2 linked regions of the Homo sapiens genome follow. The protein of the gene in region 2 interacts with the protein of the main gene of each other region in a biochemical or structural test. Each region holds a gene or a part of one and is shown on either strand. Other genes may lie near its edges.

What was found.
Region 1: the proteins of TAFA2 (region 2) and KIR3DL2 form a complex in vitro, tested with the Homo sapiens proteins (one study listed by BioGRID).

Annotation. Positions count from the first base shown.
Region 1 is NC_000019.10:54,860,341-54,864,175, reverse strand, and holds part of KIR3DL2 (killer cell immunoglobulin-like receptor 3DL2 isoform 1 precursor), read right to left. Parts: intron 1-3,835. UniProt on the Homo sapiens protein: Receptor on natural killer (NK) cells and T cells for MHC class I molecules. Upon binding of peptide-free HLA-F open conformer, negatively regulates NK and T cell effector functions. Acts as a receptor on astrocytes for HLA-F.
Region 2 is NC_000012.12:61,710,174-61,713,773, reverse strand, and holds part of TAFA2 (chemokine-like protein TAFA-2 precursor), read left to right. Parts: intron 1-3,356; coding exon 3,357-3,368; 3' UTR 3,369-3,600. UniProt on the Homo sapiens protein: Has a role as neurotrophic factor involved in neuronal survival and neurobiological functions.

The DNA.
Region 1 (3,835 bases), on a different chromosome or scaffold from region 2:
CACATATCTACAACTATGTGATCTTTGACAAACCTGAGAAAAACAAGCAATGGGGAAAGGATTCCCTATTTAATAAATGGTGCTGGGAAAACTGGCTAGCCATAGGTAGAAAGCTGAAACTGGATCCCTTCCTTACACCTTATACAAAAATTAATTTGAGATGGATTAAAGACTTAAACGTTAGACCTAAAACCATAAAAACCCTAGAAGAAAACCTAGGCATTACCATTCAGGACATAGGCATGGACAAGGACTTCATGTCTAAAACACCAAAAGCAACGGCAACAAAAGCCAAAATTGACAAACGGGATCTAATTAAACTAAAGAGCTTCTGCACAGCAAAAGAAACTACCATCAGAGTGAACAGACAACCTACAAAATGGGAGAAAATTTTCGCAACCTACTCATCTGACAAAGGGCTAATATCCAGAATCTACAATGAACTCAAACAAATTTACAAGAAAAAAACAAACAATCCTATCAAAAAGTGGGCAAAGGACATGAACAGACACTTCTCAAAAGAAGACATTTATGCAGCCAAAAAACACATGAAAAAATGCTCACCATGACTGGCCATCAGAGAAATGCAAATCAAAACCACAATGAGATACCATCTCACACCAGTTAGAATGGCGATCATTAAAAAGTCGGGAAACAACAGGTGCTGGAGAGGATGTGGAGAAATAGGAACACTTTTACACTGTTGGTGGGACTGTAAACTAGTTCAACCATTGTGGAAGTCAGTGTGGCGATTCCTCAGGGATCTAGAGCTTGAAATACCATTTGACCCAGCCATCCCATTACTGGGTATAAACCCAAAGGACTATAAATCATGCTGCTATAAAGACACATGGACACGTATGTTTATTGTGGCACTATTCACAATAGCAAAGACTTGGAACCAACCCAAATGTCCAACAATGATAGACTGGATGAAGAAAATGTGGCACATATACACCATGGAATACTATGCAGCCATAAAAAATGATGAGTTCATGTCCTTTGCAGGGACATGGATGAAATTGGAAATCATCATTCTCAGTAGACTATCACAAGGACAAAAATCCAAACACCGCATGTTCTCACTTATAGGTGGGAATTGAACAATGAGAACACATGGACACAGGAAGGGGAACATCACACTCTGGGGACTGTTGTGGGGTGGGGGGAGGGGGGAGGGATAGCATTAGGAGATATACCTAATGCTAAATGACGAGTTGATGGGTGCAGCACACCAGCATGGCACATGTATACATATGTAACTAACCTGCACATTGTGCACATGTACCCTAAAACTTAAAGTATAATAATAATAAAAATTTTAAAAAAAAGCTCATCAGAAGCACTATACAAAAAAAAAAAAAAAAAAAAAAGAAGTAACCCAGGCTCAAGTGTTCTTTTATAGCAACAAAAATGGACTAAGACAGCAACGTCCTGAGATCAGGAGGAACGTCTCAGAACAGCCTGTGCTGTCTTCCTGTTCTTCCTGGAGGAGGACGTCATGCAGTGCTTTAGCTGAGTGCTTCCTGTGGCTTCAGGGTACAAAACCCAGGCTGGGCTATTTTCTGGCTTCCCCCAGATACACTGCAAATGAGGTGACTCCATATGTCCCGAGCAGCTTTTCTGAGCCTTGAGGGACTGGCTCACGTTGAAATGTAGGCTTCTGTTGTCACTCGCTGCTTATCTGTTAGTAATGAACCTGCCTATGTAACGTATTCTCTGTGTGTTCTGTCTCCCTGGAGTGACGGTGAGTGATAGAAATTGGCATAGGCCCAGGTGCAGTACAGCAGGTGTTTAGAGTCTTCTCTGGAAAGACTGGACTGGGATTGATACACAGTGAATGTGCTTTACAGTTTCTACATCCACAACCCTCTTGACTCAAATTACATTCTCCAAGAAAAGGACACAAAAGTGAAATCAAGATCAAAAAAGCAAAGTAGAATTCTCTTATGTCAAACAGCCAGGAAATAATGATGAAGCCCATGTGAAACGTGCTACTCTTTGTGATCTCGCGAGACACATGTTAGGCTGCTGTTCCACCTGAGAGGCTGGGGGAAAGACCACCCCCTCCACCATCTATTGCTTCAAAACCACCTGTCCTCCTGTGAATTAGTAGGAAAGGGGAGCAGGAGCTAGTGCTGGTGCTGATCTCTGATTCCAAGATCTGAACTCACTCCAAGGAGTATTAGCGTTTACCTCCCCATGATCTATCTGTATCTCCACAGGTGATTGGAAGTAGGGGTGAGGTGGGGGATTTGGGTGAGGGGGAAAGTTTCTTGTGATGAACAGAGCACTTTCCCTATTTCAGGGCCTGTGCTGGTGGGTTCAGGGGGCTTTCATATTTTCCATATGATCTCATGTTCACAGAAAGCCAAATATGGAAGAGGTTTTAGGCTGATTTTCTAATGGATAAGATAAAGGATCAAAGAAGTAATTATAGAGGAATAGAAAAATGATGATTGGAATTCAGGTGCCTGCATCATTTGTGTATATTATTATATTTATGTATTTTTTATTTTTATTTTTTGAGACAGAGTATCCCTGTGTAGCCCAGGCTGGTGTGCAGTGATGCGATCTCCACTCACTGCAACCTCTGCCTCCAGGGCTGAAGTCATTCTCCTGCTTCCTCCTCCAGAGTAGCTGGGATTACAGTCATGCACCACCATCATGCCTGTTTAATTTTTGTATTTTTAGTAGAGATAGGGTTTCTCCATGTTGGCCAGGCTGGTCTCGAACTCCTGACTTCATGTGATCCACCCGCGTTGGCCTCCTGAAGTGCTGGGTTACAGGCGTGAGCCACCGTTCACAGCCTTGTATATTATGCTATACTAGGTCCCTTCATTTGCACCACCCCTCATCTAGCTCTCCCTCCTCTGCCAGGTATTGATTTAGATGCAGGAGAAATAAATCTCAGAAATAAGTTAGTGAAGCGAGGATTAAACTACCAGGAAAAATTAAACCCAGCAAGCCTTTCCAGCCAATGATTCTACCTCACAAACATATCTTATATCCATCTACTTCATTCATTTAGTGTCTAAATCAGCACCACATTTCACCAGTGGGGCGGCAATTGCCTTTTCCACGGTCTCCTAGATTCCAGTTATGCAACTGAGCCTCCCTTATTTTCATGTCAGTCATATTAATCATGTAGGGATTCCTGGTTACCTCGAGGTGAATCCAATGGCTGTGAGTGTCAAACACACGCTCCTTGTTGCTCCTTAGTTTCCTGTGTACCCAGTGTGCTCTCCGTCTCTCTACAGTCATCTTGTCATTCTCCCCACCTCATTCCCAGCATTTGAGTCAGAGCCTCTTCCTTCCACATCAGATTGTTTTCACCTTTGTGCCTTCACGGCTGACAGCTGTGTGTGCAAAATCCTTCCGCCAATCTTTCAGGGGTTCAATCCGTGTTTTTCATTAATGTCACAAATATCTGATTAGTGAGAACTTCTCTGTCACCTGAAATAATACACTCAGCATTATCTATTATTGATTTGAAAATTTGGCTTGGCCCCGTGGCTCATGCCTCTTATCCCAGCGTGTTGGGAGGCAGAGGCTATTGGATCACCTGAGGTTGGGAATTTGAGACCAGCCTGGCCAACATGGTGAAACATCCTCTCTACAGAAAATATGCAAAAAGAGTTAGCCGGGCGTGGTGGTTGTGGTCTGTAATCCCAGCTACTGGAGAGGCTGAGGGAGGAGATCAGTTCAGCCCAGGAGGTGGAGGTTGCAGTGAGCCGAGATCATGCCACCGCACTCTAGCCTGGACGACAGAGCAAGGCTCCGTCTCAATAAACAAGTAGGTAAATACATAAATAAATAGATTTCATGCACAGAT
Region 2 (3,600 bases):
CTCATATTTATTTAAAATAAGCATACAAATCATAAAAGGTTGATATTTTTGTTTAATTTTAGGTAATAATTTCATTTGCAAATAGTATTTGGACCTTGCATAGTAAACTTTTTCAACTGGTGATAATGTACCTATATTTAGAATCATTTTCCTATACATTTTTAAACCTTTGGTTTTCCCATCTTGTTTAGTGCAAACCCTGAGGTTGTCAGGGAGGGTGCTGGTAGATATTTATACATGTTCATCCTTATTTTGTGTTGAAAAGGATGAGTCATTAGTTAGGCTTTAATTCCTTCAATGCAGTTCTCTAAACTTTCATGAATGTCTGTTAGTATTGTTCAAAGAAAAACTTTAGCCGAATTAAATTGAGCAAAGAACAATTTGTGAATCATGCAGTCTCCCAAGCAAGAGTAGGCTCAGAGACTCCAGCACAGACACGTTGTGGAAGATTTATAGACGGAAAAAGGAAAGTGACATAGAGAAAACGGAAGTGAGGTATAGAAACAGCCAGATTGGTTACAGCTCAGCATCTGCCTCATTTGAACACAGTTTGAACAGTTGGCCACCTTTGATTGGCCAAAACTCGGTGATTGGTGTAAGAGTGGGCTACATTGTGTTTACACCTCCATTTAGGTTACAGTTTATGATGTACAGAGAAACCTTTAGGCTGAACTTAAAATATGTAAGGAGGAAGCTTTAGGCTAAATTTAATAGTGTGATTCTTTCATTCTACTTTTAGTGGCTCTCTTGTTAAAGATTTATACATTCAAAAGCAAAAAAATCCCTCCTAAAATCCAGACCTTTTATTTTTATAGTTGGTCAGGGTTGACAAAGCTAGGTGTTAAATAACATTATAATACTTGATCTTCATGGCAATACTGCCATTCTGGCCTAAATACAGAGCTCTTGATGCCGAATCACCATGTGTCCTCTTGGTCAAAATCAAATAATCAAAAAAAAAAAATCAAGTATTAGATTGTATACTTTCATCTAATATTAGAAATGATTTATACCATATTCTTCATCTCATATGCTAGGATATTTTTAAAATTAGTAATCCAGGAATATTGTGTAAAACTTAGGTGTGAGAATAGGTTGCTTTAATTATGCTGTAATCCATGTGTGTTTAGACAATTACTTCTTTTAGTCATGTTTAAGTTTTGTTTCTCTAGCAATTATGTTAGCTGATAGAAAGATATCATCATGAAAATGGATGTTTATGATGTTTTTGAGGATATGGGTTATATCCTTATTTATATGTGTTTGTATGTTTATGTGTGTGTATATATCTATGTTTTTTCTCTACAGAAATGGAGAAAAAAATTGTTTTAGTTTTATAAGCCTTTTGTATTATACTTTTAATTTAGATGTCTATTTTCAAAATTATATGAGAGCAAAGTTTTAATATGTAAATAGCTGAGAGGATCATTTCTCAACTTTATATAAACTAGTAGAGTCAAATATTTAGCTTGAAATGAAGATATAGGAATGCATCTATTATACTCACTAATAGATTACTTAGAACCTGAGCTTGAAGTGGATCAAGAGGACGTGTCACTTGCTATCATAGAGTCATGGCACCACATTTATGCAGTTCATTTCCGCCATGTTTCTCCATTTGGCTACACTGAGCAACAGCAGAGGCTAAACCATTTATTCTCTCTCAATTTCCTCTCTCTCTCTTTCTCTCTCAATTTCCTCTCTCCATCTTTTACACACACACATATAGCTTCCCCTCTCTTTTCTTGTCTTTTCAGCATTAGTTTTGAAAATATGGTCCACATTCATACTCAATTTGGGAGCCCTTCACAGAAATTGTATATGATGACTCCTGAATGGCAGGCAGATTGATAGTTGATAATTGATAATGAGATCAATGCTATGCCTAAGATATCTCCTGCTCCCAGAATCTCAAAGATTCAGTAGGCTCTTCATGTGTTTCCAACCCTCCATCCTTGGCACAACTTCTTCCATGGTTCTGTGCATGGGAGTAAAACACTTCAAATATGCAGGCAAAGAACTCCTTCCTTGGGAGTGCTAGCAGACCACTGAGACAGAAATGAGATGACTGTCTCCATGCATGAAAACACTTTTTTGCCTTTTGTACCATCTCCCTTTGGTAGTATAATTTGAGACTAGCCATAGCAAAGTCTAGAACTAGCTTATTATTTTGTTTAATATATTCATTTTTTACATAATTGATCAGAAAACAATGAAACCAAACAGACTTTTGTAATGTTTTTCAAAGGACAAGTAACAATGTCACTTAATAGAATAAAATCAAAATTTTGACAATAATTTTTTAAAATCACTTTTTGTTTTAGCCATTCCTAGAAAAGAACTGTTAGGTAACTCTCTAAATACCCTGCCTGATATTAGAATAGAATTAGAAATTTATTAACACAGCAGAAATCGAGATATTTCTGCTGTGTTGGTAATCTCTTCTCCTCTCCCCTCTTTCTCCCTCTATCCTCTCTCTCTCTCAAAATCTCTTTTCCTCTCCCCTCCTTCTCCCTCTCTCTTCTTCTCCCTCTCCCTGTGTGTTTTCCTCTGTATCTATGCATACGTAGATATGTATGTATATATGTATCAGGTATTCTATCTGTTTATTATTCTTTTTTCCTGTACACAAATGGTCTTTGGACTTTAGTAGGTGTGAAGTTAGTATGAATGTTTTTAGTGATACTTAAAATAGCATTAATAGTATATTCCAATCAATTTTATGAAAATTTTGGGGCACCTTTAACATTTGGTACAACATTTTTCTATTCCTTATTGTTTCTTTCCTCAGATATTTTTGTCCCCCATAAACAGATTTTTTTCAAATATAATTTTTCAAATATAATTTTTCAAATATAATTGACTCAAATAAACCCTCAATTTTTAAACTATTTCAAAAATGAACTTTATGGAACCAATCCCCAAGGGCTTTTTGAGAATATGATGTGACTGTGTTGCTGGGGACAAAGGTCTTTCTTCACTGAGGCCTAGTATGATGTGTTTGTGATATTTGGGTTATGGCTACCAAGCCTGTGCAAAAAAACAAGGATTCCAGAATCACTCTCTGGGTGTGAGAGGGATATTGTTGTCACCAGTTGGGATAATTCTAGTCACAGTTATATTCACTTGGATAATTGTGCAAATGGCTTTAAAAATATTGTGAGATGATAATGAGAAAAAAAGTATATTTTTATATGATGGAAATACCTGCATCTGTTAGTCCTTTAAAATTAAGTAATGCATTTGATATAGCAAACACCAGCATTTTGAGTTATCTATTAATTTTTAATTGTGTTTAGTTTTAAGATTATCGGTATGTTATGAAATGTTGACTATATTTTCTCCTTCCTTTGTAGGTAACCCATTAACCCAGGAGAAATCAAGTGATCCTCAAGGCTGATGACATTGAACATGCGCATAGAAACTTAACTCAACTCCTGAGGTGATCTTGAAGATTTTTATACCACTTGAAAGAGGCGCTCAATAGTCTATTTCCAAGGGATTTCATGGCCTCTTCTTGAAATCAAGACTTTTTAAAAGTCAGACATGAACTTGCATGTCATGAAGATTTCAGCAGATTTGAACTGTGTTCAACTTGTA